Regions from separate parts of the Homo sapiens genome. Here region 1 is linked to region 2. Evidence: fine-mapped expression QTL. Tissue or cell type: testis. Region 2 holds a variant in brackets; the other region holds the start of a gene. All regions are shown on one strand. Distances are from middle to middle.

Region 1 (15,830 bases), 23 kb after region 2:
TGTGCCACTGCACTCCAGCCTGGGCAACAGAACGAGGCCCCTTCTCAAAAAAAAATTAAATAATTCAGACCAGAAAAAAGGACAATATCCACGTCACACTGCATCCCTGACCACACACTTCCCAGAACAAGTTTTCTCGTTGTGGTGTCTTCCAATTCCTTTTCCTCTGTCCTGATTCCTGTCCTGACCTTTGTCCTCTAGGAACCTTGTGTGTGTGTGTGTGTGTGTGTGTGTGTGTTCTTTGGGACTGCTCCGTTTTCTGTTTGTAAAAGGAAATGTAAACCGTTGAATGGGCTCCCCACAGGACTAACGTAAACGACCAGATTACACTTGAGAAGTGGAGATTTTGAGTGCAGAGAGGAGGCTGTAGGCGAATCAAGGCTTCTTTAGAGACCAGAGGCTCAGGGCAGGGTCGCTGGCCAAAGTCCTCTGTTTCCTTGAATGGGTAACAAGCAGACACGTCCCACCTAAGCATCAGGGCCACCTTCGAGGTTGAGCAGCCGGCCTCCCTGAAGCATGGGAAATTCCGAGTCTTGTGGGTCTGCAGATTCCACACTGAAATGGGAGGAGGAAGAAATGGGGCTGGACCTGGACAAACAAGTGCCTTCTTCAGCCAGTCTGTCCTCCACCCCTAAAGGAGCTGAATAATCTCTACTTCTTTCGAAAATACCTAAGCTGGCTTTGAACTTGCCAAATAAAAGGATACTGCCATTCACCAGATTCAATAATTTAAATGGCATGGAAAGAGAACACCCATTTTATTCAAATAGGGCCACACCAAGACAAGAAAGACTACAGACCATGTTGTCTTGAAAGCTAATTTAGCAAATATCAGAAAAACTCACTTGGCGGTTGCCACAAAAGCCCTGAACCACGCCCTTTTTCCTGAAAGCTCAGGGTCTGCAGGACAACTCAGAGGTTCTAATCCCACCCAAAATTTCACGTGGCCAAGGAACACTTACCGCCTTCCCCCACCCCCGTTCTTCTGGGTGCTCTGAGAGGTGATGTTTCCATCACTGCACCCCCATCTCACCGTCATCAAACCCTCCCTCCCCCATCTTCCCATCACTGCACCCCCATCTCACCGTCATCAAACCCTCCCTCCCCCATCTTCCCATCACTGCACCCCCATCTCACCGTCATCAAACCCTCCCTCCCCCATCTTCCCATCACTGCACCCCCGTCTCACCGTCATCAAACCCTCCCTCCCCCATCTTCCCATCACTGCACCCCCGTCTCACCGTCATCAAACCCTCCCTCCCCCATCTTCCCATCACTGCACCCCCGTCTCACCGTCATCAAACCCTCCCTCCCCCATCTTCCCATCACTGCACCCCCGTCTCACCGTCATCAAACCCTCCCTCCCCCATCTTCCCATCACTGCACCCCCGTCTCACCGTCATCAAACCCTCCCTCCCCCATCTTCCCATCACTGCACCCCCATCTCACCATCATCAAACCCTTCCTGGCTGGGTGCAGTAGCTCATGCCTGTAATCCCAGCACTTTGGGAGACCGAGGCAGGCGGATCACTTGAGGTCAGGAGTTCAAGACCAGCCTGGCCAACATGATGAAACCCCATCTCTACTAAAAATACAAAAATTAGCCGGGCGTGGTGGCGGATGCCCATAATCCCAGCTTCTAGGGAGGCCAAGGCAGGAGATTCGCTTGAACCCGGGAGGCAGAGGTTGTAATGAGCCGAGATCTCGTCACTGCACTCCAGCCTGGGGGACAGAACAAGACTCCGTCTCAAAAAAAAAAAAAAAAACCCTCCCTCCCGCCCACCATCTCACTACCATCAAACCCCTCCCTCCCGGCTTCCCAGGGCCAGTTGTCCCCATGCTGCACAAACAGCCCTGGGCACTTTGTGTCAACAACTCTGTTTTCTGGTTCTATCCCTGCACTTGCTGTTCCTCCAACCAGAACAGCCTTGCTCCACTTCTCAGCCTCTGCAAAGCGGCTGGCTATGGCCAATGAGTGGATTATGAGTGTGTTTCTAGAAAGCCTGTGTGTCTGGATGTGCCCCTCCACAGCCCAGAAATCAACAACCAGGCCTTCGAGTTTCTTCATAACTCAGAAGCTTCTAATCTCTGTGACTTTTTGTGGGATTCTTTCAGGGAAGTCAGTTGGGAAAGCGGCGAATCAACACTGCGACAGGTAATGCTTAGCTTGGGCCGACTTCTCGTTCTTCTGCCCAGTTAAGAGCCATAGTTTTGCTCCCCATGCCCCAGCAGATAAGCAAAGCCTCTGTCCATCCGGCGGGTGACCCACACTAAGAAGACGACTTGCCCAGAGTAACGTGGGCCACGCGGTCCAGGTGTGTCCACCTCTCACAAAGGCAGCTGTCAACACCGGGAGTTCCTAAGCCCTCTGCACGTAGCCCAAGGCACAGCAGTGCCCCTCTCCACATCTCCACAGAGGAGCACCGACGCAGGCCTCGTGTGCAGCGATATGCCAGCGAATGGGAAGGCTTTCTGTGCAAGAGGCTTCATTTTCTTCATTTTCTTCAGAGTGGTTGGAAGAGATGATGTGATGCACTTTTGTAAACGAAAATGTCTTACAAACAAAGTATCTGTGTGTCCCATGCAAGCAGCAATGCTGCCCGACTTTCAGATAAATGAAGACATTTTTAGAAACTGATTGTTCACACACATATGTGGCTCTTTTCCATTTTGGGGGAAACTGAGAAGGACTGAGTCGCTAGTAAGTCAGAGATGCTCAAAGAGAAACCAAGAGGAGCCCGGGGGCGACACCTGGGCCGACAATGACAGGCCCAGAGAAGAAATGCTTTGGCTGGGCACGGTGGCTCATGCCTGTAATCCCAGCACTTTGGGAGGCCGAGGCGGGTGAATCATGAGGTCAGGAGATCGAGACCATCCTGGCTAACATGGTGAAACCCCATCTCTACTTAAAAAAAAAAAAAAAATTAGCCGGGCATGTTGGCAGACGCCTGTAGTCCCAGCTACTCCGGAGGCTGAGGCAGGAGAATGGGGTGAACCCGGAAGGTGGAGCTTGCAGTGAGCCGACATCGCGCCGCTGCACTCCAGCCTGCGCGACAGAGCGAGACTCCCTCTCAAAAAAAGAAATGCTTCACGGATGACTTTTCCAAAAAGACAGCGAGTGTCCTTGGGAAGGCATTATGTGTGCTGAACCAAGTCTTCAGAAGGTACAACGTGAAACTCAACTGCTCCTCATGCCTACCCCCACAGCTGACCAGCTCCCAAAAGCTGCCTCCTACGTACAGTGGCCCTGCCCTCCGGCCAGCAATCCACTCTCCGGGAAGCAGGGTTTGGAATATGACTCGCTCCACCAGGACCGGATGACTGCCAGGTCTGGAACCGTGCGGGTGGATCTCCGAGTGGACTCCCTTCCCTCGAGTCACCTTTGGGCTCCGGTGCCACTCCCCACAGCAGTCCCCACAGCAGTCCACACAGCAGTCCAGGCACCCTCCTCCCAGCCTTGGGCCGTTTCTTGCCAGCCTCTGCCAGCCACCACACTGGGTCACATCAGTGGTTTCTGCGTGCCCCCAACCCACCTCCGTGGGAACTTTGTCACCAACCTGGCCCAAAGTCTGGTCCACAGCAGGCCCTCAGTAACACCAAAGAGCTGTCATGAATAGGAAACCCCGAGTGTCTCCGGTAAGACGCAAAAGCCCATCTGTCAAAACACAAAAGATGGCCGGGCGCGGTGGCTCACGCCTGTAATCCCAGCACTTTGGGAGGCCGAGGCGGGTGGATCATGAGGTCAGGAGATCGAGACCATCCTGGCTAACAAGGTGAAACCCCGTCTCTACTAAAAATACAAAAAAATTAGCCGGGCGCGGTGGCGGGCGCCTGTAGTCCCAGCTACTCGGGAGGCTGAGGCAGGAGAATGGCGTGAACCCGGGAAGCGGAGCTTGCAGTGAGCCGAGATTGCGCCACTGCAGTCCGCAGTCCGGCCTGGGCGACAGAGCGAGACTCCGTCTCAAAAAAAAAAAAACAAAAAAAAAAAACCACAAAAGATCTGCAAATGCTTTTGAAAAATACACTAATGTTTCTCAACTTTCTATTGTAAAATAGCTATGGTAGCAAATTTTTAATCCAGATAATGATGTTTAGAAGCATTTAATAATTTTAAATTGTAAATTAGAGTAAAACGGCACTGCTGATACTCAACTATGCAACAGAACCATTCAACAGAACACTTTGCATAAATCATACTTAGGTCAAATTTCACTGGTTTCATTTGTTTTTATGCTTTAACAGGACAATGTTTTATTTGTTTATTTATTACTTAATTTTATTGTTTTAGAGACAAGGCCTCGCTCTGTTGCCCAGGCTGGAGTCCAGTGGCACAATCATAGTTCATTACAGCCTCAAACTCCTGGCCTCAAGCGGCCCGCCCGCCTCAGCCTCCCAAAGCACTGGGATTACAGGCGTGAGCCACCACGCCCAGCCTCAGAACCACTTTTAGGTTGTTAAAAAACATCCTTTCTCTTTTCCATCTATAAACAACACCATTGGGGCCCTTTGTCATCACCAGCAAACCAGAACACCAAGCCTGGGTCTGTATATGTGAGGCACTCAAAGGGTCTAAGTGATAACAGAAAAGCAGGAAAATCCCTCCCATGGACCCCATGGCCTAAGACCCCAGCACTCCGCACAAGTTCACAGCTACGCCGCAGCCGCGGCAGACGGCAAGAGGACCACAATCAGGATAAGGCGGCGGCCTCTCAAAGCCCTGAATAAGTCTGTGGCCTTAATAGAGATTTTGAATCAAACATTTATTCTTAGGAGTCAGGCCATTCAAGCAAACTTAGCAGCAACAAGATGAATTTTTCCCCCAGGGGAGGGGACAGATTCAAAGGGTATTTTTTTTTTTAAATCTGCTAGAAAAACCAGTAGAGGGAAGTATCAACCATCACTCAAGGTCACTCATGAGACTTCCAGGTAAAACATGCAAAGCCCAGGGAGAAGCAGCAGCCTGAGTTTTTACAAGAACGGTACTTAGGCAAGAACACGAAGTCCCCAGGACAGGGAACCTACCACGGCAGACGCCGTGACACTGGGTGTGCGGATGGGAAGGGGCAAGGACTTCTAGACCTTTCCTCTCACTTTAACTCAGCAGTGGAGCGGGTGCCTGGGCACCAGTCACGGCAGTGGGAGGAACCGGCTCCAGTTCTCAGGCTGTGGAGCCGTCTAGGCACCGTGCACGAAGTGGGTCTCCAGGGCTCTGAGAGGCCGGGCTAAGACCTCTGATGGAGAACAGAGCACTGGAGCTGCACCGCTGTCCCAGAAACACAGGCCACAGGGACAGAGTGGCCCAATTTCCCTTAATTTAAAAACCCCACGTCAGGGCAGTGTTGGAAAGTTCACTCTGCTAAAATTTAATTCAGTGTTTGTAAATAGTACATCGTCTGACAATAACAACTGTGTACCCCCCACGGCATTTCCTCTAAATCCTTGGAGCAGTTTCACCGTTCACAGGGTTTACCTCCTGACCTCTGTGACCACCAGGGGCTGGGGAGGGACGGAGGACGCAGGGCACTGGGTCAGCCTGGCCCTGGTGGAACTGACCTGGGGGCCCTTAGGTAACAGTCCACCCAACCCGAACATCCGAAACAGGAGTGGAACTCAGGTCTGAGCACAGAACGACTCATCCTCACACAAAACAGCTAAACCCGAACAGAAATCACCTCATCTAAGCAAAAGAAAACTCTCACGTTCAGGATAATGCTGTCAGTGAGAGGCTTAATTAAATGCTTGTCCCCAGGCTGGCCTGAAGGCAAGGCGGAATTTCGGATTTCTAAACACCTCAAAGTGAGTGCATTCCACGCCCCAAGGAGAAATCTGACAGTAACTCCCCAGCCCTCTTCCTTCAGTTACGGAGAAGATGTCTAGCTTTTTAGGGGACACAGTAAGTTCCCACCTAAATTTGCAGTAACTTGTGCCCAAGTACTCCCCTCACTCCTCAGTCCTTTCTGCAGTGGTAACCAGGCTGAGGTGCCCAAAAGTGCCAGTTGGAAACACGTAAAACACACCGAGCAGAAAGGTTCTACTCTGATAAATACTGTCGCTTGCTTCATTATTCATGTGAAAAACCCCTTCTATACATTTCCTTTTGATGAACAAACTATTTTCCACTCTTGTAGAGTGAAATAGTGCCTTGCAGAGGCAGCGTGAGTGCCAGCAGCAGAGATGTATCCAGTCTGTTACCCAAACGGGAAGTTAGCTCTGATAATAGAGCCAATATGAAAGATTCTACAATCGATACAATTAAAATGCCCGTGAGTTCTCGGCGCACAGGTGTCTGCGCCCAGGCCGCGCGCTAAACACGTTTCTAATTAGCATTTCTTTAAACAATGCTGATCACAATCTTGCCACCGTAATCCACTCCAAATGCATCGTTGAGATTGCAGCACGGAAAGCGAGAGAGGAAATTCGCTGCGAATCTCAAACTTTCTTTTGTTTATATTTCTTCGCTGTCAGAAAATATCCGTTCTTCGCCCCATCTGGTCTGTACCCTGGCTCCTCGGTCCAGCCCTATTGTGTGTGCTTCGTTAAACCTACAAACAGTGAATCTGTCAGCGGGGCCAGGGGAACCCCAACTAGCAGGAGCCCTCCCTCTGGCGCAGAGAATTCCCCGTTTGCCTTAGGGATTGAGTTGTCAGACACCGGCTCGCGCTCCCCCGCGAAACTGACATGTCTATTTACAGAGAAACAAAGACGCGGCTCGCAGCGGACCCCGCTTCCTCCGCGCGCCCCGTCCGCCCCGCGCGCCCCGAGCCCTCCGCGCCCCGAGCCGCCCCGCCCCGAGGCCCCTGCGCCCCGGTTCGGCCGGCGATTAAGATGGAGACCAGGCCGGCGCCCGGCGTCCGGGGAGACAATGACCCCCCGGCCTCAGGGCGCCGGGACCCGCCCGCGCCCACCTCCCGCAGTTCCGACTCTTGGCAAACTCGGCGCGGGCGGCTCCGGGTGCGGCTGGGCTGTGCCGGCGGGGGGCGCGGGCGGGGGGCGCCAAGACGCCCCCGGGCTGCCTCGGGGCCAGGCGTTGACGCAGCAGAAATTACCAGCTGGAAAATTCCCCTCTCGGAGGTGCCGGGGAGGGAGCGCGGCGGCGGCGGGAGGTGCCGGGGGCCGAGGGGCCGGGGCAGCCCAGCCGCCTCCGCGCTCAGCCCCGCGGGGAACCCGCGCCGCCCCCGCGCGCCCCGCCCCGCGCCGCCGGCCTGGGGGGCACCCGCGGGGGCCGGGCCGGGGTCTCCGCCGCCGCCCCCGGAGCCCGCGCCGCAGCTGGGAGCGCCGATGGCCCCCGGGAGGGCGCCCCCGCGGGGCGGGGCGTGGCGGGGCGGCCGGCGGCGGGGGCGCGCCCGGGCTCGCAGCGGCCCCGGCTCCCGGCTCCCGGCTCCGGGCCCGGCCCCCGCCGCGATGCGCCCGCCCGGCCGCGCGGACAATGAGCCGGCGCCGCTTACCTGTGACCCCATGGGGCGCGGGCGAGGGCGGGCGCCGCGGCCGCCGGGCCGGCGCCGGTGATCGCCGCCGCCGCCGGGAGGGCGCTGCGTCCGGGCGGGTCCGAGCTGCGCGCTCGCCGGGGCTGCTCGGTCCGTCCGTCCGTCCGTCGGTCCGTCAGGCCGGCGCGCGCCCCCGCGCCCGCTCCAACCCCGCGGCCCCCGCCGCCCGCGCGCGCGCGCCCCGCCCGCGGACCCTGACCCCGCCCCCCGGCGCGCGCCCGGCCGCCGCTGATTGGCCCGCGCCGCGCCCCGGCCGCGGCCACCGCCCCGGGCCCCGCCCACGCCGGCCCGGCCGCCGGCCCCGCCCCTCGCTCGGCTCCCGGCGCCGCGCCGCGGGGTCGCAGGGGGCCGCGCCGGGGGTCCGTTCTCCCCCCCGCGGGCAGCCGGACAGCGGAAGTGCGGGCTGGAGCTCGCTGGGCATTGTGGGAAGCCCCCTCCCCTGGGCTGGCGGGGGGCTGGGGCGGCGCGGCGCGGGGGTCCCCCTGGCCCCCGCTGCGCCCTTGCCCCGCGAGCGCGGAGCAGCCTGGAAACACCCCACGGGAGCGGCGACCCCGGCGAGGGCACCCGCTCCCTTCCCGGGCCGCGCACCGGGCGCTGCCCACGCGCAGGTTCCTCGGGGGCGCGCGGGTGCCCAGGTCACCGGCCGTCCCCGCGCCTGACGCGCGGTTGCACTGCGCGCGTCTCGCAAACTTGGCGACTCCCCCAGCCCGGCCGGGCATCAACGCGGGCCGCTCGCGGTGCGGAAAAGGCGCCCCCAAGGAAGGCCGCCCGGGGTGCGGGGTCTGGAAGGGCCTGGGCACCGCGCGCGCCTACCCTCGGGGGCCTCGGCGCACCCGGAGATCGGCGCACCTCGGGCGCAGGCCTCGTGGGGGTGCCCGCCAGTGGGGCTCGCTTTTGGCTGACTAGGGGCACCGGCGGCCGCGCGTGGGTCCCTCCCGTCGTGTTGTCTGCGGGGGACGAATGGCTCCGGGAGGGGGCGGGAACCAGCGGCCCGGGCCTCGCCCCAGCCCGTGTGCAGCCCCGATCCGAACGGCCTGGGACGCGTCTCCACCACTCGGCGCCCGGACTCTGCGCGTCGCTTCTCGCCTCCGCCGTCCTCAGCCCTCGGGCGGGTAGAGTGGGAAGCGCGGCCCCGCATTCCTGGCCGGCCTGCGCAGGGGTAAAGGCCACCTCGCTTCCTCTCCCCGGGCGCGGCGGGAAGGGAGGTGAGCCTGTGGCCGGCAGCCGCGCGAGGGAGTCGAGCCCGGCCCGGCCAACCAATGGGGAGGCGCCCGGGCCGTCCAGCCTGCCTCCCTGCGGGCCCAGCGCAGCGGATTCCTCGGGAGGTGGGAGGCGGCGGCCCTATGGGTGCTTTCAAATCTGGATGTGTGAGGCGCATTCAGGAGCGGCAGTGGGAGGCGGCTGAGGGCTCTCCATGAGTGAGCAAAGGCGAAGCGAGGTGTGGCTGCCGGGACCAACGCCTGGGACACTCCCTTACTGCCGTCGCGGGCGCCTGGAAATGGCTGTGCGGACACCCCGTTCCCATCCCCTCGCCAAGGTCGCCGGGATGGCACTGCGGCCCAGGAAGCCCCGTCGCCGGCCTACCTCGCGCGGCACCCTCTCGGTGGCACTGCCTGCTCTGGTCTGAAACTGTAGCCCCAGCCTCACCGACCTTCGGGAAGTGGGGGCTGAGCACAACCACCCTGAGAAGAGGCGGCTTCCAGGAGGGTCTGGCGGGTCACGTGCATCCCCCTTGGAGAAAACAGCACTGCCTGCAGGAGCCCCCACCTGCCCACCCAGAGCCCAGTTGTACCCCACGGAGGAAAGGAGGCCTGGGGAGACAGGAGAGCTCGGGCCCACCGAGCCAAAGCAAGGAGGACCAGAGCCCTGATGCCTGCCCCAAGGGCCTCCCGCAGAGCCTGCCCATGCTCTCTTGCGCAAAAGAGAACCCCAGTCTCTCCCAAGATGTCTGGACCTCCCTAGACAGCCTCCAAGGAGAGCAGTGTTGATGGTTTGCCATGTCCGTTGTCCATGCAGGGATGGAGAGCAGCAGCAGCTGCCTGGCGGAACACACAGTGGCACTCAGTCATCGCTTAGGAGGCCTGCCCATAAGAACCAAACCTTGATCTCACCACGACCCAGGCCAACCCCACCTGCCAGGTTAGGGCTGCCTGTCTTGGTAGAAACTTGCTGAGGGCCGGGCGCGGTGTCTCACGCCTGTAATCCCAGCACTTTGGGAGGCCGAGGCAGGCGGATCACGAGGTCAGGAGATCGAGACCATCCTGGCTAACACGGTGAAACCCCGTCTCTACTAAAAATACAAAAAATTAGCCAGGCGTGGTGGCAGGTGCCTGTAGTCCCAGCTACTCGGGAGGCTGAGGCAGGAGAATGGCGTCAACCCGGGAGGTGGAGCTTGCAGTGAGCCAAGTTCGTGCCGCTGCACTCCAGCCTGGGCGACAGAGCAAGACTCTGTCTCAAAAAAGAAAAAAAAAGAAACGTGCTGAGTTCTAGAATGAACGGGGCGGATGAGGCTCTGGGCCCCCTCTCACCTGGGAGCCCCACTCCTCCCCGCTTCCCCCTCGGCAACACTGCCAGTGACGGGACAGAGACTCCTGACTTTTCTGCTCCAAGAACCAACAGAAGGTCAAGCAGCCTGGAGACGAAGACAGTATGTCAAAAAGGAAGAACCAAGACCGGTCTCAGAGACAGCGCCCTGATTAAGTCCTACAGACCGTTATTCCAAGAGCTGATAAACCCCATTACTATTTAAAAGAAAAACAAACAAAAACCAGCAGCAGCAGCTGCAGCCTCTCAGCCGAACTGGGAGGACGAGGAGGGTGGAGTAGTTGGACTCCTACAGCCACGTGGAGTGTCTGCTCCGACGGGCATGCTGGCCCCGTGGCCCAGGAACCTCAGGTTTGTTGGAGCCCAGCATCTACTGAGCTGCTGCTGGGATTAGACATGAGACGGGGGGATGCCAGGCTGGGCCGCGGTGCCCCCTCTTCCTAGGGCCCCGGGACACTTGTGCAGGTGACGCACACCAGGCCTGGGGGCCACAGATGCAAGGAGGGATCTGCCGCCTGACAGCCGGCTGGGAGGCAGCTCTGGGAACAGAGAATGTGAAGTGTGGCCTCAGCAGCATTGGGATCAGGGCTGGGAGGCCAGCACATGGGTGTCTGGGAGGGTCCAGAGGGTGGGGCCCCTGAGGGTGACATGATGAACTGGACATGGTCCCTGACCTCGCCAAGTGGGTGAACAAGACAGGTGAACAAAAGGTCAGGTCTCTGTAGGGCACACTTGTCCACGCTGCATTACGTGGTCATTCCTGAAAGTCACCCCCAGCCATCTGGGTGAGCACGTTGGGAGCCTGTCCAAGGGACCCTGAGGCCTATGAGGGATGAGCGGCAGCAGGCCAGGAGTTCTGGAGGACGGGGGGCTCAGGGCAAGGTGCAGAGGCTGGGCAGCCCCACGGATGTACCTGCTGAGGGACGTGCCCCCCACAAACCCCTGGGAAAACTCAACCAGAGACACAAATGGAGAGCCATCTGGCTGGCAGGGCCCCCCGAGGGTCCTGGCACAGCCTCGCGCTTATGGCCTCTCCGCAGACCTGTGTTCACAGACTCCCTGCACCACTTACCCTGCCAGCCGGCCACCTGCCCTCCACCCTCACTGTGTGGCTTCTAGGGGATGGGGATCTGGGAGGGGACCCAGCCCCATTCCAGGTGCTCTGACACCACCAAGAGAGTAGGGATCTGCCTCTCATCCTCAGGAAGGATGGCCTGGGAGGAGCTTTGGGAAAGAAAATTCCCGAGGAACAAGATACCCCTTCCTGTCTGTGTCCCCACCCCCCCCCAAGCAGCTCCCCAACCTCGCCAGGGCCTTTACTGCCACCCCCTCTTCTCCCAAGGAGGCATTTCCTTGTCCACCCCCAGCTGGGATTTCTGTGGTTGTCTTTGTCTCAGTCACTGGTCAGGGAACCTGCCTGTTTATTCACCAGCCAGTGGTGTTGCTCAGTCGTCCCCATGGCAACAGCCCTGGGAGTCCTGCCCCCTCCCAGGGAACTGCCCAGAACCTGTCCCTGCCCTCTCCAGGCCTCTGCTGGGAGCCCAGACAGAGGGAGAGGCAGAGGGCAGGGCGGGGAGAGAGGCCCGCCACCAGCCTGAGGATGCTGGGGCTGTCCAGGGAGCCGCCCACCACACGTCATCCTGGGTCCTGCGGGTGGACTGGAGGCCGGCCGTGGGCTGCAGGAGAGCCCCACCCACGGGCTGGGGGAGGTGGCCTTGTCGAGGCTGGATAGAGGTGGGCCTCCTCTCGGGCTTGGCTTGGCCAGGTCCAGTGCCAGCTGGCCCTGCCCTCCCACCCAGGCCTCCCCAGGACCACCCTCCAGAGCTGCTCTGGGGCCAGGGGCTACCTGCCAACCCCACGGCTGCCCCACCCCAACTGTCCTCCGGGCCTGCGCCCCTGCCAAGCCCCAACTGCCGCTCCAGCTGCCACAGCCAACTGTCGACCGGTCTCCATTCCAAGCGCCTGCTCACCCCCAATCGTCCTTCCAAAATGCTGCTGCCAACTGCCAGCCCCCTCCCTTCCTGAGCCCTGGCTCCCACCACCACTCCAGGCCACCACACCAGGGATCTGCATTCCAGACCTTCCCTGGGACAGAGGCCAGGCCACACCTGCCGTGTCCCTAATGGGATGGGATGGGGCGGGGGAGGCACTGCACTGAAGGTCTGAGACCTGAGGCCCCAGCAGACAGAAGGCAAGGGGCAGGGAGAGCGCGGGCAGGGCAGGGGAGAGGGCAGGGGCAGGGAGAGCGCGGGCAGGGCAGGGGAGAGGGCAGGGGCAGGGAGAGCGCGGGCAGGGCAGGGGAGAGGGCAGGGGCAGGGAGAGCGCGGGCAGGGCAGGGGAGAGGGCAGGGGCAGGGAGAGCGTGGGCAGGGCAGGGGCAGGGGAGAGCGCGGGCAGGGCAGGGGAGAGGGCAGGGGCAGGGAGAGCGCGGGCAGGGCAGGGGCAGGGGAGAAGGCAGGGGCAGGGAGAGCGCAGGCAGGGCAGGGGAGAGGGCAGGGGCAGGGAGAGCGCGGGCAGGGCAGGGGAGAGGGCAGGGGCAGGGAGAGCGTGGGCAGGGCAGGGGCAGGGGAGAGCGTGGGCAGGGCAGGGGCAGGGAGAGGGCAGGGGCAGGGAGAGCGCGGGCAGGGCAGGGGCAGGGGAGAAGGCAGGGGCAGGGAGAGCGCAGGCAGGGCAGGGGAGAGGGCAGGGGAGAGGGCAGGGGCAGGGAGAGCGAGGGCAGGGGAGGGGGCAGGGAGAGCGCGGGCAGAGCAGGGGCAGGGAGAGCGCGGGCAGGGCAGGGGAGCGGGCAGGGGCAGGGAGAGCGCGGGCAGGGCAGGGGCAGGGAGAGTGCGGGCAGGGCAGGGAGAGCGCGGGCAGGGCAGGGGCAGGGGCAGGGGAGAAGGCAGGGCAGCCCATCCTCAGTGCCAGGGGCCACGTCAGGCCCAGCGCAGGGGTGGGAAGGCAACCAGAGCGCAGCTGGAGCAGGCCCTGGGAGCTGCAGGGCGGAGCTGGACCTTCCCTCAGAGGGTCTGTGAACAGCTTGGCCTAACCACAGACCCCGGGAGGGTCCTCCCAGCCATGTTGGGGGGAACGGGCCCCTCCCTACCAGCCTTGCACAGCTCAGGGTGGAACCAGCTCCCAGGCCTCAGCTGTCCCAGGCCATCCTGGACTCCCTCCTGCTTCACCACCTGGCACCCGGGGCCGGCCTGAGTCCCTTTAAGTTCCAACGTGTGGCTTCTCAGTCCCAGCCCTGGCCTTGCTGCCCCTTCCCTCCTTGGAGCTTTCTCTCTGCATTCATCCCAGTGGTCCCTGATCCCCACCTCCAACATAGGACCCCCCTCCATATCCCCCAGCCCGCTAGACCGTATCCCTCAAACACAGCGGGTGCCTGCAAGTTGGCTCACCAGGCCTAGGGGAGGCACGGCTGCCCTTGCGGGTCAGACCTGGGGCTGTAATTCCATCCCAGGCTCTGGACCAGCCGGTCAGCACCAGGAGGTGATGGGGGCCGGGGCCTCAGTCCCGGCTGAAGGGACACAGCTGCTCCCCAGGGGCCCCTGGCCTCTGAGGGCTCGCGTTGCAGAGGCGGGTGATGGCTCTGCAGATAGCCACTGCAGGTGAAATGGACACCTGGCTCTCCCTGGTGTCCCCTCCAGGAGCTGTCACTGGGCAGTCCGCCTTCCAGGATGGGACATAGTGGAGCAGGCACGGGGGGCCATGTCAGCCTGTCAGTCGGGCTGGCCCTGGAGGAAGGTTTGCACCTATGGTGTACCAGGAATCTCCCTACTTGGGGAACAGTGAGGGGAAGGACTCTCCAGGGTCACCTGGTCCCACCTCCGGTGCTGGGGCCTGGGAAGGAGAGAGAAGGGAGGTGGCTGTGGCCCGTCCCCTTCCACCAGAGGGGGGCTGCTGGGGTTCCCTTGGTGGATATGGAGAGGCCCCAGCCCTGCACAAGGCCAGCCTGTTGCCTCAGCCTCATTCACTCACTCACTCACTTGCAGGGTAGCATTCACGGATCATGGCACCTACCGCGTGCCAGGACGTGCTAGGTCTGGAGAGCCAGAAAAAACCCCTTGTATTGCAAGAGTGGAGAGTCGGTGACAGGTCAGCAAATTCATAAACGAGCTCTTCTGAGATAAAAAGGAACTGGGAATGGGCCCCTTGGGGACATGGCTGGTGCTGGGGCAGAGCAGGAAAAGGCAAGCTGAGCTCCTGGCCATGGTGGGATGACAGGGGGCAGGAGGGCCAGAGAGGAGAACAGCAGAATCATATAGTGCTGGCTTATGACCCCAAGCTGGAGCGCGTGCTGATATAAAAAATAAGAACAATTAAATGCAAGAAAGACACCAACCTCCCCTACAAAAGAATTCCCAGTAATACCTGTAGGTTCCGAGAGCAGAGATTACCCCTATGCACACACCATGAGTGAGGACTGGGTCTAGGGACTCCTTTCCAAAGAGCGGAGTCAAGACAGGCAAAGAGGAACTTGGCCGAGGAGGCGACTGGCAGGCACCACCTTGGCCAGGTGACCAGGTGAGCGTCGCCAGGTGATCGCACGGATGCCCCACAGCTCTGATAAGAGGTGACTCAAAGAGCACCCCACCTCTGTGAAATCCTTCCCAAACCCAAAACCTCAGTCTACTGCTGAGAAAGTACATCAGACAAACCCAAACTGAGGGGCTTTCTTTTGTTGTGGTTGCTTTTGTTTTTGAGACGGAGTCTCGCTCTGTCGCCCAGGCTGGAGTGCAGTGGCAAGATCTCGGCTCACTGCAACCTCCACCTCCTGGGTTCAAGTGATTCTCCTGCCTCAGCCTCCCAAGTAGCTGGGATTACAGTTACCTGCCACCACACCTGGCTGTTTTTTGTATTTTTAGTAGAAACGGATTTTTAGTAACAAGACCATGTTGGCCAGGCCGTTTTTGAACTCCTGACCTCAAGTGATCTGCCCGCCTCGGCCTCCCAAAGTGCTGGGATTACAGGCATGAGCCACTGTGCCTGGACACAAACTGAGGGACTTTCTACAAAAACACCTTGTCGGTGATCCTCAAAGGTCACCAAGAACAAGGAAATCTGAGAAACTGTCAGACAGGAGAGCCCGAGGAGACGGGACAGCTCTAAACATTGTGGCACCTGATAGGGCCCTGGAGCCGAAGAAGGCCATCAATGGCAGGACTGGTAGACTTCAAATAAAGTCCGTTCTGCGGGGGAGATAAACGGACCCCAACGTGGGCTTCCTAAGGCAACCCAGCAACACAGGATGGCGACGTCAGGGAAGACAGAGGCTTCGTGACAGGTGCATAGGACTCTGTGCTTTGCAGTGTCACACATTCTACTGGCCAGGCTGGAGTGCAGTGGCACGATCTCGATTCACTGCAACCTCCGCCTCCCGGGTTCAAGCGATTCTCCTGCCTCAGCCTCCTGAGTAGCTGGGATTACAGGCGCCCGCCACCACGCCCAGCTAATTTTTGTATTTTTAGTAGAGACGAGGTTTCACCATCTTGGCCGTGCTGGTCCTGAACTCCTGACCTCTTGATCCACCCGCCTTGGCCTCCCAAAATGCTGGGATTACAGGTGTGAGCCGCTGTGCTCGGCCAATTTTTTTATTTTTAGTAGACACAGGGTTTCACCATGTTGGCCAGGTTGGTCTCAAACTCCTGACCTCAAGTGATCCACCACCTCGGCCTCCCACAGTGCTGGCATGACAGGTGTGACCCACCGCACCCCTCCTGCAATGTCGCCCATTTTCTGAAATCTAAAATTATTCCAAAATAAAGTTTGTTTTTTAAAAGGGGAAAATGCAAAACCAAACAATCAAAGAAAACCACCT
Region 2 (15,830 bases):
CGGCCCCACACTCGGAGCGGCCCAGGGCAATGAGGGGCTTAGCACCCGGGCCAGCAGCTGCGGAGGGTGTCCGCCAGCAGTGCCGGCCCACCGGCGCTGTGCTTGATTTCTCGCCGGCCCTAGCTGCCTCCCCTCAGGGCAGGGCTTGGGACCTGAAGCCCGCCATGCCTGAGCCTCCCCCTCCCCGCAGTGGGCTCCTGCAGAGCTTCCCTGACGAGTGCCCCTCCCTGCTCTACCGCGCTGGGTCCCATCAACTGCCCAAGGGCTGAGGAGTGCAGGTGCACAGAGCGGGACTGGCAGGCAGCTCCACCTGCAGCCCCAGTGCCGGATCCACTCGGTGAAGACAGCTGGGCTCCTGAGTCTGGTGGGGACTTGGAGAACCTTTATGTCTAGCTAAGGGATTGTAGATACACCAATCAGCACTCTGTGTCTAGCTCAAGGTTTGTAAATGCACCAATCAGTACCCTGTGTCTAGCTCAAGGTTTGTAAATGCACCAATCAGTGCTCTGTGTCTAGCTGATCCGGTGGGGACTTAGAGAACCTTTATGTCTAGCTGAGGGATTGTAAATACACCAATCAGCACTCTGTATCTGGCTCAAGGTTTGTGAACACACCAATCAGCGCCCTGTATCCAGCTCAAGGTTTGTGAATGCACCAATCAGTGCTCTGTGTCTAGCTATCTAGTGAAGACTTGGAGAACTTTTGTGTCTAGCTCAAGGATTGTCAACGCACCAATCAGCACCCTGTCAAAATGGGCCAATCAGCTCTCTCTAAAACAGACCAATCAGCTCTCTGTAAAATGGACCAATCAGCAAGATGTGGGTGGGGCCAGGTAAGGGAATAAGAGCAGGCTGCCCCAACCAGCAGTGGCAACTTGCTGGGGTCCCCTTTCATACATTGAAAGTGTTGTTCTTTTGCTCTTTGCAATAAATCTTGCTGCTGCTCACTCTTTGGGTCCACACTGTCTTTATGAGCTGTAAGACTCACCGTGAAGGTCTGCAGCTTCACTCCTGAAGCCAGCCAAGACCACGAACCCACCAGAAGGAAGAAACTCCAAACACGTCTGAACATCAGAAGGAACAAACTCCAGACACGCCGCCTTTAAGAACTGTAACACTCACCGCGAGAGTCCATGGCTTCATTCTTGAAGTCAGTGAGACCAAGAACCCACCAATTCCAGACACAATGGGGACGGCCTGTGTCTCCAAAGCCACCGGCAGCTCCACCCAAGAGTTCGAGCTCATCAGATTATGCTCGTTAAACAAGTGCTGTTTGCTGCACGTAAATTATGCCTCAATAAAGGATTAGTTTTTGTAAAAATATTTTTCCTCAGCTATAATCCTGTGCTTATCCAAGGACCTCACTGCCATTTGTTACGGGTTGAACCCCCCGCCCCCGCCTCCCAAATTCATGTTGAAGCCCTAACCCCTCATATTTCAGAATTCCACCTTATTTGGAAATAGGTCATTGCAGATGCAATTAATTAAGATGAGGTCGCTGGGGCTGGACACGATGGCTCACACCTGTAATCCCAGCACTTTGGGAGGCAGAGGCAGGCAGATTGCTTGAGGCCAGGAGTTTGAGACTAGCCTGGCCAACATGGTAAACCCCCGTCTCTACTAAAAATACAAATATTAGCCGGGTGTGGTGGCGCACGTCTGTAATCCCAGCTACTCAGGAGGCTGAGGCACAAGAATCACTTGAACCGGGAGACGGAGGCTGCAGTGAGCTGAGATTGCGCCACTGCACTCCAGCCTGAGTGACAGAATGAGACCCTCTCAAAAAAAAAACAATGAGGTTACTGGGGGCCCCTAATCCAGTATGATAAGTACCCTTAAAAGGGGAAGAAATTTGGACACAGGTCGGCACAAAGCGGCAGCGGCGGAGGCCCCGGCAAGAGGCTGGAGAGAGGCCTGGAGCAGACCCCCAGCACCCTCCCAGAAACCGCGGCGGGCCGACAACCGAACCTCAGACCCCCAGCACCCTCCCAGGAACCGCGGTGGGCCGACAACCGAACCTCAGACCCCCAGCACCCTCCCAGGAACCGCCGCGGCCGACGACCGAACCTCAGGCCCCCAGCACCCTCCCAGGAACCGCGGTGGGCCGACAACCGAACCTCAGGCCCCCAGCACCCTCCCAGGAACCGCCGTGGCCGACGACCGAACCTCAGGCCCCCAGCACCCTCCCAGGAACCGCCGCGGCCGACGACCGAACCTCAGGCCCCCAGCACCCTCCCAGGAACCGCGGCGGGCTGATGCCCAAACCTCAGACCTCCGGCCTCCAGGACTGGAGGGAACAGATGTCTGTTGTTTACGACGTTCCCTTTGTGGCCCTTTGACATGGCAGCCCCAGGTCACTGACGCCCCGTTTCTACCACCAAAGAGCGCGATGCCACAGACGCCAACAGGAGGAAACACGTTTCTGGGCAGCTCTGCCCACTCTTGCGAAGAAACCCACCAACCCGGCTCCCCCAGGGCACCTCACCAGCAGGAACCAGGCGTGGGCACCATCCCCCAGGATGCCATCCAGGCAGGGACCAGTGTGGGCACCATCCCCCAGGGCGCCTCACCAGCAGGAACCAGGCACCTCCCCTCACACCAAGGCGTTCATGGTTTACCTTCTTCTGAAAAAATTAAGGTTAAGACATGAATACTGTGAAACTGTCGTACAAATTAAATTTCATATACATCATATTACCATTGTTCGTGGTCGCATTTCAAAATTTTTAAGTGAGCTCCTGACTAGAAAACACTCCAAGACATGTTAGCAGAGTCGTCTTTCGACAGCGAGACCGGTGGTACTATCCACATCATCTCCAGTGAGCAAGTGGGTGCTGGCGATGAGGACTTTAGGTTTTCCACATGGCAGCCCCCATGTGGCCATCTGAAGATGCAAAGCCATGTCTGCCGGCCCCGGGCTGCCCAGGCCCCGGGCTGCCCAGGTCTCTGTCGGAGGCCCTGCCAGCCCCGCCCCTCCCTGCCCACTGGCCCCTTTCAGTTCCTTCATCTCCAGCCCGGCTCTGACGCCCAGGCCGCCTCCTCCGCCTTCCCGAACCTGGCTACCGTCACTTCCTTCTTTTTGTTTTTGTAATGGGGTCTCACTCTGTCCCCCAGGCTGGAGTGCAGTGGCGCAATCTCGGCTCACTGCAGCCTCAACCTCCCAGGCTCAAGGCATCCTCCCACATCAGCCTCCTGAGCAGCTGGGACCACAGGGGCACGCCACCACACGGGCTAATTTTTTTGTTTTGTAGAGACGGGGTTCTGTCGTGTTGCCCAGGTTGGTCTTGAATTCCTAAACGAACCTGCCGCCCTGGCTTCTCAAAGCGCTGGGATGATAGGCGTGAGCCACTGCACCGACATAACGTCACTTCCTTCTGTCGGGCGTCCCCAGCCAGAGCCCAGCACGCTTCCCCTTTCCAAACACCTCTCACTGCCCTGCGCTGTCCCATCTCAGCCCCAGCCACCAGGGTCTCGGTGGGCTGTGGGGTCCCTGAATGGAGGGGCTTCCACTCCCACCTCAGCAGCTCCAGGCCTCAGCATCCCTCCAGCTCCAGCCAGGTGCCCACCAGTCACACGCAGGGGAAGCCTGGAGCAGTGCCTGGCTCGGGCCATGTGTGAGGGTGGCAGGGGTGCCTCCAGATGGGCACAAGGTGCTCTGGGCACCCAGGAGGGGGCCGGGGCAGCTGAGCTCCTAGTCTGTCATTTGGGTTATAGATGACACAGTGGAACAGGTCAGATCTGTAAAGGCGAATCCTGCCATGAATCACAACAGCAGTCCTGAGCCCTCTCAGCCAATGGACACAGCCTCCCCCTCCTCCAGGAAGCCCTCCCGGGCGTCACTGTTCTTACACTGACAGCACACATGCCACCTCGCTGCCTGACACTGCCCTGCCCTCCTCTCAGCCCAGGGACCACATCTCAATGCTGGACAGGCCCAACACATACACTTGGGGTCAACAAAACTACAGTACCAGGCCGGGCACGGTGGCTCACGCCTGTAATCCCAGCACTTTGGGAGGCCAAGGCAGGTGGATCACCAGGTCAAGAGATCGAGACCAGCCTGGCCAACATGGTGAAACCCCGTCTCTACCAAAATTAAAAAAATTAGCCAGGCGTGGTGGGGGGCGCCTGTAGTCCCAGCTACTCGGGAGGCTGAGGCAGGAGAATCGCTATAACCTGGGAGGCGGAGGTTGCAGTGAGCTGAGTTGGCACCACTGCACTCCAGCCTGGGCAACATAGTGAGACTCCGTCTCAAAAAAACAACAACAAAAAAAACCTACATGACTTTTTTTTTTTTTTCTCAGAAGGAGTCTCGCTCTGTTGCCAGGTTGGAGTGCAGTGACACGATCTCAGCTCACTGCAACCTCCACCTCCCGGGTTCAATTGATTCTCCTGCCTCAGCCTCCTGAGTAGCTGACATTACAGGCTCACACCACCATGCCTGGCTAATTTTTGTATTTTTAGTAGAGACGGGGTTTCACCACGTTGGCCAGGATGGTCTCGATCTCTTGACCTCGTGATCCGCCCACCTCGGCCTCCCAAAGTGCTGGGATTACAGGCATGAGCCACCACGCCCGACCTACAGTACCTTTTGAAAATTAAATCTGTAATACTGATTTACAGTATTTCAAAAATGTCTCATACTAAGTGCTGATAGAAGGTAAAATGAAACAGCAGCCGGGCAGTGTGGTACACACCTCTAATCGCAGCACGTTGAGAGGCTGAGGCGGCAGAATCACTTGAGCCCAGGAGTTGCAGGCTGCAGTCAGTGAGCTCCGATTGCACCACTGTGCTCTAGCTGGAGTGACAGAGCAAGACCCCCATCTCTAAAGGAAAAAAAAAGACACAGGGAGGAGAGAAGGTCATGTGACCACAGGCAGAAACTGGAGTGACAAAGTCACAAGCCAAAGGATGCCTGGAGCCACCAGGAGCTGGAAGAGGCAGGAAGGACCCTGCCTGGAGTCTCCAGAGGGAGCATGGCCCTGAGACACCCTGAGTTCCAGCGCTGGACTCTGGAACTGAGAGGAGACACCTCTGCTGCCGCGAGCTGCCCAGCAGGTGGTACTTTCACAGCAGCCCCAGGAAACTAATACACAAAGCCATGCATCAGCTTTTTTTTTTTTTTCCTTTTTTTTGAGACGGAGTCTCGCTCTGTCGCCCAGGCTGGAGGGCAGTGGCACGATCTCGGCTCACTGAAGCCTTCGGCTCACTGCAACCTCCGCCTCCTGGGTTCAAGTGATTCTCGTGCCTCGGCCTCCCCAGTAGCTGGGATTATAGGTGTGTGCCACCACACCCGGATAATTTTTTTGTATTTTTAGTACAGACAGGGTTTCACCATGTTGGCCAGGTTGGTCTCGAACTCCTGACCTCAGGTGCTCTACCCGCCTCCGCCTCCCAAAGTGCTGGGATTACACGCATGAGCCACCATGCCCGGCCCCAACTTTTAAAAATATTATAATTTTCTCAGAAAGCTAATCAGCTGGCTGGGAAAGGTGGCTCACGCCTGTAATCCCAGCATTTTGGGAGGCTGAGACGAGCGGATCACCTGAGGTCAGGAGTTCGAGACCAACCTGGCCAACATAGTGAAACCCCGTCTCTACTAAAAGTTAAAAAAAAAAATTAGCCTGGCATGGTGACGGGTGCCTGTAATCCCAGCTACTCGGGAGGCTGATGCAGGAAAATTGCTTGAACCCGAGAGGCAGAGGTTGCAGTGAGCCGAGAACATATCACTGCACTCCAGCCCAGGCAACAACAGTGAAACTCCATCTCAAAAAAAAAAAAAAAAGAAAGAAAAGAAAGCTAATCAGCTTAACAAGGCAAGAAAACTATTTGTGTACATTTTAAATCTGAGATACTGCTATGGCTAACTCTGACCTGAAATGGTAACTTCAAAAAAAATAGAACCTAAATAAGAAGGTTGTAATACCTGCTTAAAATAAAGGCAACACTATGCTCTCAAGGAATATGATGGAATCTTTCTCTTTTTTTGAGATGGAATCTGGCTCTGTCACCCAGGCTGGAGTGCAACGGTGCGACCTTGGCTCACTAAAACCTCCACCTCCCACGTTCAAGCGATTCTCCTGCCTCAGCCTCCCATGTAGCTGGGACTACAGGCGCCCACCACCACGCCCAGCTAATTGTTTTGTTTTGGTTTTTTTTTTTGAGATGGAGTCTCGCTCTGTCGGCCAGGATGGAGTGCAGTGGCGCCATCTCGGCTCACTGCAAGCTCCGCCTCCCAGGTTCACGCCATTCTCCTGCCTCAGCCTCCTGAGTAGCTGGGACTACCAGCGCCCGCCACCACACCCGGCTAATTTTTTGTATTTTTAGTAGAGACGGGGTTTCACCGTGTTAGCCAGGATAGTCGCGATCTCCTGACCTCATGATGCACCTGCCTCGGCCTCCCAAAGTGCTGGGATTACAGGCGTGAGCCACCACGCCTGGCCAGGATTGGTGTTAATTCTTAAAATGTTTGATAGAATTCAACAGTGAAGTGATATATACAATCATATACATATATAGAGAGAGACAGAGATGGACTTTTCTTTTGTTGGAAGTTTATTGACTATTGATTCAATTTCTTTATTGAAATTGACTTTTCTTTTTGGAAGCTAAAAAGTACAATAACTGTAGTGAAAGTTTCTGAACTTTTCTTTCATTGGAAGTTTTTTGACTACTGATTCTTTATTTGTTATAGGTCTATTCAGATTTTCTGTTTCTTCTTGAGTCAGTTTGGTCTCGCTCTGTCACCCAGGCTGGAGTGCAGTGGCGCCATCTTGGCTCACTGCAACTTCTACCTCCCGAGTTCGAGTGATTCTCCCACCTCAGCCTCCCCAGTATCTCGGACTACAGGCGCACGCCAGCATACCTGGCTAATTTTTGCATTTTTAGTAGGAACGGGGTTTCACCATGTTGGCCAGGCTGGTCTCGAACTCCTGGCCTCAAGCAATCTGCCCGCCTCGGCCTCCCAAAGTGTTGGGACTACAGGTGTGAGCCACCGCGCCCGGCCTTCAGCTACTCCATTTTTTAACATTTTGCCGCATTTGTTTACATCAAGCAATATGATAGAATCCCTAACCAGTTACTTTTTGCTTAAAAGCTGTACTAGGCCAAAACAAGCGAAGCACCCGTCTGTGTGAGGCAGCGGGTCTGGCTTACAGGCGGCGCCTCAGGGCTCGCTCCCCCTCCGAGCGGGTCTCACTCCCAGAGCGGGGCTCGCCCGGTGTCTGGCCTCCGAGGCCGTGTGCCCAAGTCCCCACCTTGTGCGGCACAGGCCCTTCCCACAGGGGACACTCACGGAAGCTGAACGGACCTTCCCACAGGAGACACTCACGGAAGCTGAACGGACCTTCCCACAGGGGACACTCACGGAAGCTGAACGGACCTTCCCACAGGGGACACTCACGGAAGCTGAACGGACCTTCCCACAGGGGACACTCACGGAAGCTGAACGGACCGACGGAGGTGGCGTGGATGAGCAGCAGCCGCCTGAGCAGTGAGGAAACCCCGCGGACAGCGCGGTAAGGACCCCACCCAGATTACTGGATTTCACCACCGGCCGCCTTCGATGGAGGAGTCCTCAGTCTCCACATCCGCACGGCACAGACGGAGGGGGGGCCCATGGGGCCCCAGCGATGAACCTGTCAGGGGTCCCCTGTACCCTGTAGGCCAGTCAAGCCATCCTTCCCAGCCCTTGCCCCGGGGGCTGAGCGCAGGGGAGGGCCCGGAAGGCAGACGCCACGGAGCCCGGGGCTTCAGGGGGGCGTGGGGCGGAAGCGGGGCCAGGGCGGAGGTCACGGACAGGGTCATCCGGACCCACAAGGAGTCTCAGCCCCGGGCCCGGCGGGAGGGAAGGGGGAAGCCAGGCTCTTCCTCCTAGGGCAGGGCCTGGGCTCCGGGGCAGTGTGACCTCCCGCCCCTAAGCGAGTCCTGCCTCCCCATGAGACCTGAGCTCCTCCAGCGTGGGTGGGAGGCGGACAGAGCCTCCCCCAGAGAAGGCCCTCCTCGGTCCAGCGCTCGGCCAGGACAGGCGCCAAGGCCGCCTTAAGAAATAAAACCAGCAGGCGCGGTGGCTCACGCCTGTAATCCCAGCACTTTGGGAGGCCGAGGCGGGCGGATGGTGAGGTCAGGAGATCAAGACCATCCTGGCTAACATGGTGAAACCCCGTCTCTACTAAAAAATACAAAAAAAAATTAGCCGGGCGTGGTGGGGGCGCCTGCAGTCCCAGCTACTCGGGAGGCTGAGGCAGGAGAATGGCGGGAACCCGGGGGGCGGAGCTTGCGGTGAGCCGAGATGGCGCCACTGCACTCCAGCCTGGGCGGCAGAGCGAGACTCCGCTTCAAAAAAAAAAAAAAAAAAAAAAAGAAAAAGAAAAAAAAAAAAGAAAGAAAACTCCATGATTCATGAGGTAAGACCTGGGAGCTGGCGGCTCGGTGCTCCGGTGCTGCAGAGGCACTCAAGGGGCTCTCCACGTTCGCCTTCCACGTTCCCCTTCGCAGGGACCGCAGCGCCTGGGGCACTTCGCCATGGGCTTGGCCGAAGTGGGCACTAAAGGTGCAGACTCGGTGGAGCCAAGGGGGGCAAGGTCAGCAGCCCTGGGGGCGCAGCCCTGGGGGCCCCGCCGTGGGCCACGCCCAGCGCGTCCAGTCCTCATGGCCGCGTCTATTCCAGGAATGGGGTCCTGGGGTTCGGCACAGGCCTGCTGGGGTGGTGGCCCCACATCTTGCCTGTGTCCCCCCATATTATGCCCAAGGGAGCAACAAAGGCCACCCCTGGGTCCAGGCCTCAGGAGCTCACAGGAGCCCTGAGCCCAGAAGACAGCAGCGCCCTCACGCGGTCCTCAGCAAACCTGCCAGAGCCCAGCAGGTGGAGAGGACTCCGGGAGACAGCAGGAGCTCCGCGACCTCCCTTCCTCTCCCCTCTTCTCCCTTACGAAGTTAGCCGTGTGGTGGCCAGTGTGGCTTAACTCAATGATACAATTTTAAAGATTTCTGGAAAGGACTTAAAAGACACGTGCTTAACTCTGAGAAAAGATTTCAAGGCCAGGCCAGAATGGTGGCTCATGCCTGAAATCCCAACGCTGAGGGAAGCCGGGGCGAGCAGATGGCTTGAGCCCAAAAGTTCAAGACCAGCCTGGGCAACATGGTGAGACCCCATCTCTACAAAAAATAGAAAAAATTAGCCGGGCATGGTGGTGCACACCTGTAGTCCCCGCGACTCTGGAGGATGAAGTGGGAGGATCCCTTGAGTCGGGAGGTCGAGGTTGGAGTGAGCCAAGATGGCACCACTGTACTCCGGCATGGGTGACACAGCAAGGCCCTCTCTCAAAAAAAAAAAAAGAAAAGAAAACTCTAAATACATGGAACTGGCAAACATTAACGTAATGTCAATTACAAAGGTGGCCGTGACACAGGAGGCCCAGAGTGGGGCGGCCCTTGAAGCAGCCTGCAGCGTGGGGATGAGGCCTACAGATGCCTCTGCCTCTTTGACTAATTCCACTTCTGAGACTCTGCCCCAAGGAAATAACCCAAAAAGCTAATTGGTTCCAAGATGTTCCAAGCACTGCTATGGCTAACAGTGACAAACAGAAAAAGACCCAAACACTCGACA[A/T]TTCGAAGATGGCCCAGAAAACCGTCAAGTATTAAAACTGAGCAAAACCCAATTCCAGGAACATTAAAAATGCCAGTCACGTGGATGCTTAGAAGTTTATCAGAAATTAACGGGAAGAAATGAGAACAGAAAGCCCAGCTGGTCGTGTCTGCACAAGCTCACACACACCGACCACACTCAGGATAGGCACCAAAACCCCCCTTCCCCTCGCAAACCAAGGTCCTTATTCATAAAACACAAATGTAATCCTAGCACTTTGGGAGGCTGAGACAGGTGGATCATATGAGATCAGGAGTTTGAGACCGTCCTGGCCTACATAACGAAACTCTGTCTTTACTAAAAATATTAAAATTAGCTGGGCGTGGTGGCACGCACCTATAATCCCAGCTACTAGGGAGGCAGAGGCAGGAGAATCGTTTGAACATGGGAGGCAGAGGTTACAGTGAGCCAAAATTGTGCCACTGCACTCCAGTCTGGGCAACAGAGTGAGACTCTGTCTCAAAAAACAAAAAAATAAATAAAAATAAAACACAAACGCGAGAACGTGCCCACCAGCACAGATGCAGGGTAGGATGACGCCACAGGAAATCAGCACCCAGGAGGTGAACAGAGCGCGAACATGAGAGCAATCTACGTTTCTCTTTCCTCACTCCTACGAGGAGCTCCAGCAGCAGAGCCGGAGAGCACCAGCTGGCGTCCAGGCTCCACTCTCTTTCCTCACTCCTACGAGGAGCTCCAGCGGCAGAGCCGGAGAACACTGGAGAGCACCAGCCGGCGTCCGTGTTCCACTCTCTTTGACTTTTCACAAACCCAACAGGCAGGCGAAGAGTCTGCCTCTCTGGGTCCCAGAACCCCACAGGATGGGCATGAGCCCCACCCCGCCCAGCCCACAGAGGCGAGTCTGGGTCCCAGAACCCCACAGAATGGGCATGAGCCCCACCCCGCCCAGCCCACAGGGGCGAGTCTGGGTCCCAGAACCCCACAGGATGGGCATGAGCCCCCCTAGGGGCAAGAGACGACAACAGGTGGACAAGATGCGAGCCACCAGCCCACTAGGACCTCGGAGCTGCCATGGGGTGGGTCTCCCTGAAGAAGAGTCAAGCAGCCTTCCTCTCCCCAGCCCCACCCCACCTCTCATACAGAAGACACTACAGCCCCAGGCCTCCCAGCTTCTGACTTCCAGGAGCAGAAGTAAGTTCTTCCACAGGGCAGGAGGGGCCCTGGAAGGATACGACTGTCACCTCCTCTGAAAGTATTTCCAGGAAGCCCACTGTGCTCATAGCCATAGGCAACGCAGAGAGCAGGAAGATCTCGGGGGTGCAGAGAGGGGGTGGCCCATAGGTGACGCAGACAACTGACCCTGACCCCTGGGCCCAGCAGAGATCTGCACGTGTGAGGGTCAGCTCTGAGCTGGGCGACGGGCCAGCCGGCTCACCTTGCAGCCAGGTGAGCTCTACCCCGCTGGGAAGAGAGCTGCTGCTGTCTGACTCCCTGCCACATGAGGACTCAGGACTCACTGGGCAGGTGAGCCATGGTGCAGGAACAAACCCCTTTCATCCAACTCTGCCATAAGACAAAATGTTAGAATCACAGTCCCTGTCACTAAGTAGCACATCTATTTCACCAACTCCCACTTTTCTGCCAGGTCTGGCTCATACATCGTTCAGACCAAGTACTTGCCTGGGAAAAAAAACTAAAGTAAAAATAGCTCTTAGACTCCAAACGTGGAAGCATTAAAATATTCAAAAGAACTGACCCTGCAGATATTGAAACAAGGCTTTAGTGCTGACCCACCAAAGTGGCGGCGATCTTTTCGGAACAAAACTCTCACTAATAGGAAAACTCCAAATTCAGGCAAAATTTGCATCAACTTTTCCTACATAAAAAAAAGAGAAGCAACGGTAAACTACATTTGCATTTTTAGTAAAAACTAAATGAAAATCAACTTGAAATAAGAAAATTAACATTAAAATTTTTCACAAGGCCAGGCAAGGAGGCTCAGGCCTGTGATCCCAGCACTTTGGGAGGCTGAGGCGGGCAGATCACGAGGTCAGGAGATCAAGACCATCCTGGCTAACATAGTGAAACCCCGTCTCTACTAAAAATACAAAAAATTAGCCGGGCAATGTGGTGTGCACCTGTAATCCCAGCACTTTGGGAGGCGGAGGCGGGCGAATCACGAGGTCAGGAGTTCGAGACCAGCCTGGCCAACATGGTAAAACCCCGTCTCTACTAAAATACAAAAAATTAGCCAGGCAATGTGGTGCGCGCCTATAATCCCAGTGCTTTGGGAGGTGGAGGCGGGCGAATCACAAGGTCAGGAGTTCAAGACCAGCCTGGTCAACATGTGGAAACCCCGTCCCTAGTAAAAGAAATACAAAAAATTAGCTGGGTGTGGTGGCAGGCGCCTGTAATCCCAACTACTCGGGAGGCTGAGGCGGGAGAATCACTTGAACCCGGGAGGTGGGGGTTGCCATGAGCCAAGACCACCCCACTGCACTCCAGCCTGGTGACAGAGCCAGACTCCATCTCAAAACAAAAAACAAAACAAAACAAAACAAAAACTACGGCTGGGCGTGGTGGCTAATGCCTGTAATCCCAATACTTTGAGAGGCCAAGGCAGGTGGATCATGAGGTCAAGACATTGACAGCATCCCGACCAACATGGTGAAACCCCGTCTTTACTAAAAATAGAGAAAAATATTAGCTGGGTGTGATGGCGCGTGCCTGTAGTCCCAGCTACTTGGAAGGCTGAGGCAGCAGAATTGCTTGAACACGGAAGGCGGAGGTTGCAGTGAGCCGAGATCGCACCACTATACTCCAGCCTGGTGAGAGTGAGACTCCGTCTCAAAAAAACAAAACAAAACAAAAACAGGCATCAAAATATGAAACAACCCGTGTTTTAAAATACATTAAGTTGGGGCCAGGCACGGTGGCTCACACCTGTAATCCCAGCACTTTGGGAGGCTGAGGCGGGTGGATCATCTGAGGTCAGGAGTTCGAGACCAGCCTGGCCAACATGGTGAAACCTCGTCTCTACTAAAAATACAAAAATTAGCCGGGTGTGGTGGAGCGCGCCTGTAATCCCAGCTATTCGGGAGGCTGAGGCAGGAGAATCACTTGAACCCAGGAGGCAGAGGTTATAGTGAGCTGAGACTGTGCCACTATACTCCAGCCTGGAGACAGAGCAAGACTCCATCTCAAAAAAAAAAAATAAATAAATAAATAAAATACATTAAGTTGGAAATTCCAATGTAAGCATTGTGGCTACACACCAGAGTAACTGCTCCCCTGCCACTGCCCTGCGCGGGCGAGTCCCAGCCCTCCCGCCTCTACCTGGTTCTACTGACGGCTCAGGCAGGAGTTCAAGGTCACAAGGATGCACCCAGCCAGACCTTCAGGTAGGAAGTGTCACAGAACCAAAACTGATCCTTCAGCAAATAAGTAGCATGAAACAGAGAGAAGAAACGCAACTTCAGGGACATCACCACCCACAAGCAGCACATGGCCCTCATCCCAACTCTGATTCAAGTAAAGCCACAGTGAAAATGTGCAGGCCACAGTCAAGAACGCTGAGCCCAGCCCAGCATCGCGACGCTGAGGAAGTGTTGCGGGGTGCCCGGCTGCGTGTGAGCCACACACAACGAAGCACCGAGGGTAAAACTGAGATTTGCTTTAAAACACTTGAGAGAAAAAACAGTGGGAAGGGCCGGGCGCGGTGGCTCACGCCTGTAATCCCAGCACTTTGGGAGACCGAGGCGGGTGGATCACAAGGTCAGGAGATCAAAACCATCCTGGCTAACATCGTGAAACCCTGTCTCTATTAAAAATACAAAAATTAGCCGGGCATGGCAGTGGGCGCCTGTAGTCCCAACTACTAGGGAGGCTGAGGCAGGAGAATGGCATGAACCCGGGAGGCAGAGCTTGCAGTGAGCCGAGATCACGCCACTGCACTCCAGCCTGGGCAACAAAGCAAGACTCCGTCTCAAAAAAAAAAAAAAAAGAAAAGAAAAAAAGAAAGGAAAAAGAAAAAACAGTGGGAGAGAGTGGGAGAGATGAGTAAGACAAGAGCAGAGCACTGGGGGTTCCCGCAGCCAGGCGACGTGGACGTTCTCTCTAATTTTGTGTATGTTTGAAAAGTTCCAAAATAAGTTTTTAAAAATATAATTAGGTTTTAAAATAATAATATAACTTTTACAAAACTGGGAAAATATACAATCCAGCGGTGCAAATGCGGTGAGAGAGAATCTCATCTGGAAACCCACAGGCAGCCCCACCCCTCAACAGGAGGCCCAAGACCTGCCTCTGCAGGGGGAGAGAACCCCAAGACCTGCCTCCTCCCACCCCCAGGCAAGGGTCCTCATTTGGGGTTGACCTCCCAGAGGAGTGCAGCAAGCCTGGGCCTCAGGAGTCTGACTGTGGGTGACAAGCCACAGACACAGCCATGTCCACATCGCACCATGGCCACCGCAGGCAACTTAGAATGCTCGATACTCACCCTACTTCGGAATTAGGAATATCAGATGCACCATTCACAATGCTATGTGCTAAATTAAAGTTCCACATGTTACTACCTCACAAATCAAACTTTCCTGAATTTTAGCAATGATATTTCAGTAGTTGCTACCCTTCATTTTCCAGGGATCTTACTGGATGCACTAAAAATGCTATTGTGAGCTGATCATGGTCTCACATGCCTGGGGTCCCAGCTACTCAGGAAGCTGAGGCACAAGGATCGCTTGAGCCCAGGACGTCGAGGCTGCAGTGAGCTGAGATTGCGCCACTACACTCCAGCCTGGATGACAGAGCAAGACCCTGTCTCAAAATAAACAAACAAAACATGCTATTCTGAAAAGGGGCCACAGCTCACCAGCTGCTGAGAAGACACAAAAGGCCGAGAGCCCAAGTCTGAGCTGAAGGCACAGGTGCAGTGGGCCCAGGTGCAGTGGGCGCAGGTGCAGTGGGCACGAGTGCAAGTGCAGTGAGTGCAATGGGTGCAGGTGCAGTGGGTGCAGGTGGGCACCGGTGCAGTGAGTGCAGGTGCAGTGGGCAAAGGTGCAGTGGGTGCAGATGGGCACAGGTGCAGGTGGGCATAGGTGCAGTAGGTGCAGGTGCAGTGGGTACAGGTGGGCACAGGTGCAGTGAGTGCAGGTGCAGTGGGCAAAGGTGCAGTGGGTGCAGGTGGGCACAGGTGCAGGTGAGCACAGGTGCAGTGGGTACAGGTGGGCATAGGTGCAGTGAGTGCAGGTGGGCACAGGTGCAGTGAGTGCAGGTGCAGGTGGGCACAGGTCCAGTGGGTGCAGGTGCAGTGGGTGCAGATGGGCACAGGTGCAGGTGAGCACAGGTGCAGTGGGTGCAGGTGGGCACAGGTGCAGAAGGTGCAGGTGCAGTGGGTACAGGTGGGCATAGGTGCAGTGAGTGCAGGTGGGCATAGGTGCAGTGAGTGCAGGTGCAGGTGGGCGCAGGTCGAGTGGGTGCAGGTGCAGTAGGTGCAGGTGAGCACAGGTGCAGTGGGTACAGGTGGGCACAAGTGCAGAAGGTGCAGGTGCAGTGGGTACAGATGGGCATAGGTGCAGTGAGTGCAGGTGAGCACAGGTGCAGTGAGTGCAGGTGCAGGTGGGCGCAGGTCCAGTGGGTGCAGGTGCAGTGGGCACAGGTACAGTGGACACAGGTGGGCACAGGTGCAGTGGGTGCAGGTACAGTGGGCACAGGTGCAGTGGGTGCAGGTACAGTGGGCGCAGGTGCAGTGGGCACAGGTGGGCACAGGTGCAGTGGGCGCAGGTGGGCACAGGTGCGGTGGGTGCAGGTGCGGTGGGCGCAGGTGCAGTGGGCACAGGTGGGCACAGGTGCAGTGGGCGCAGGTGCAGTGGGCGCAGGTGGGCGCAGGTGCAGTGGGTGCAGGTGCAGTGGGTGCAGGTGCGGTGGGCACAGATGCAGTGGGCACAGGTGCAGTGAGCAAGGCAAAGGGGGTGCCCAGAGGAGGGCCCGAGTCCTGCTTCGGATTGGGAGGCACAAGCAGCCGCAACACTCAGCTGCCCCTCTTGGCTCCATCTCTGCTCACCCTCAACATGACTCCCTCCCCACCCACCCCGTGTCTCTCCTCACAGGCTCACATCACCCAAGATACTCAAAGCATCTCCCCCATCTGCATAACCCAGCAAAGCAAGGACTCCATGACCTGCTGTGTACCCAGGCCAGGAACCTGACCTGCCACAGGCCCAGGG

Direction of the effects. Alleles are on the strand shown, and positions count from the first base shown. SD is a standard deviation of normalised expression in the study named.
For the expression in testis of the gene that starts at base 7,613 in region 1, allele T in region 2 goes with a higher level than allele A (small effect, 0.32 SD a copy in GTEx).

The links. PIP is the estimated chance that this variant, and not a neighbour inherited with it, causes the effect.
Region 1: it holds the start of ZBTB46, and the variant in region 2 is the best candidate, but not a certain one, in a credible set for the expression of ZBTB46 in testis (GTEx, PIP 0.66).

Annotation. Positions count from the first base shown.
Region 1 is chr20:63,823,652-63,839,481 of GRCh38, forward strand. It overlaps ZBTB46 (zinc finger and BTB domain containing 46), which reads right to left and starts at 7,613. Exons shown (of 5, transcript NM_001369741.1): 1 at 7,446-7,613. RefSeq lists enhancers at 5,357-6,048, 11,385-11,679 and silencers at 7,631-7,770, 11,385-11,679.
Region 2 is chr20:63,800,640-63,816,469 of GRCh38, forward strand. The region is part of intron 1 of ZBTB46 (zinc finger and BTB domain containing 46); the gene reads right to left. It overlaps ZBTB46-AS1 (ZBTB46 antisense RNA 1), which reads left to right and starts at 7,437. Exons shown (of 3, transcript NR_110081.1): 1 at 7,437-7,516. RefSeq lists enhancers at 1,545-2,046, 14,376-15,126, 15,127-15,830. The variant A/T (reference allele first, on the strand shown) is at 9,607.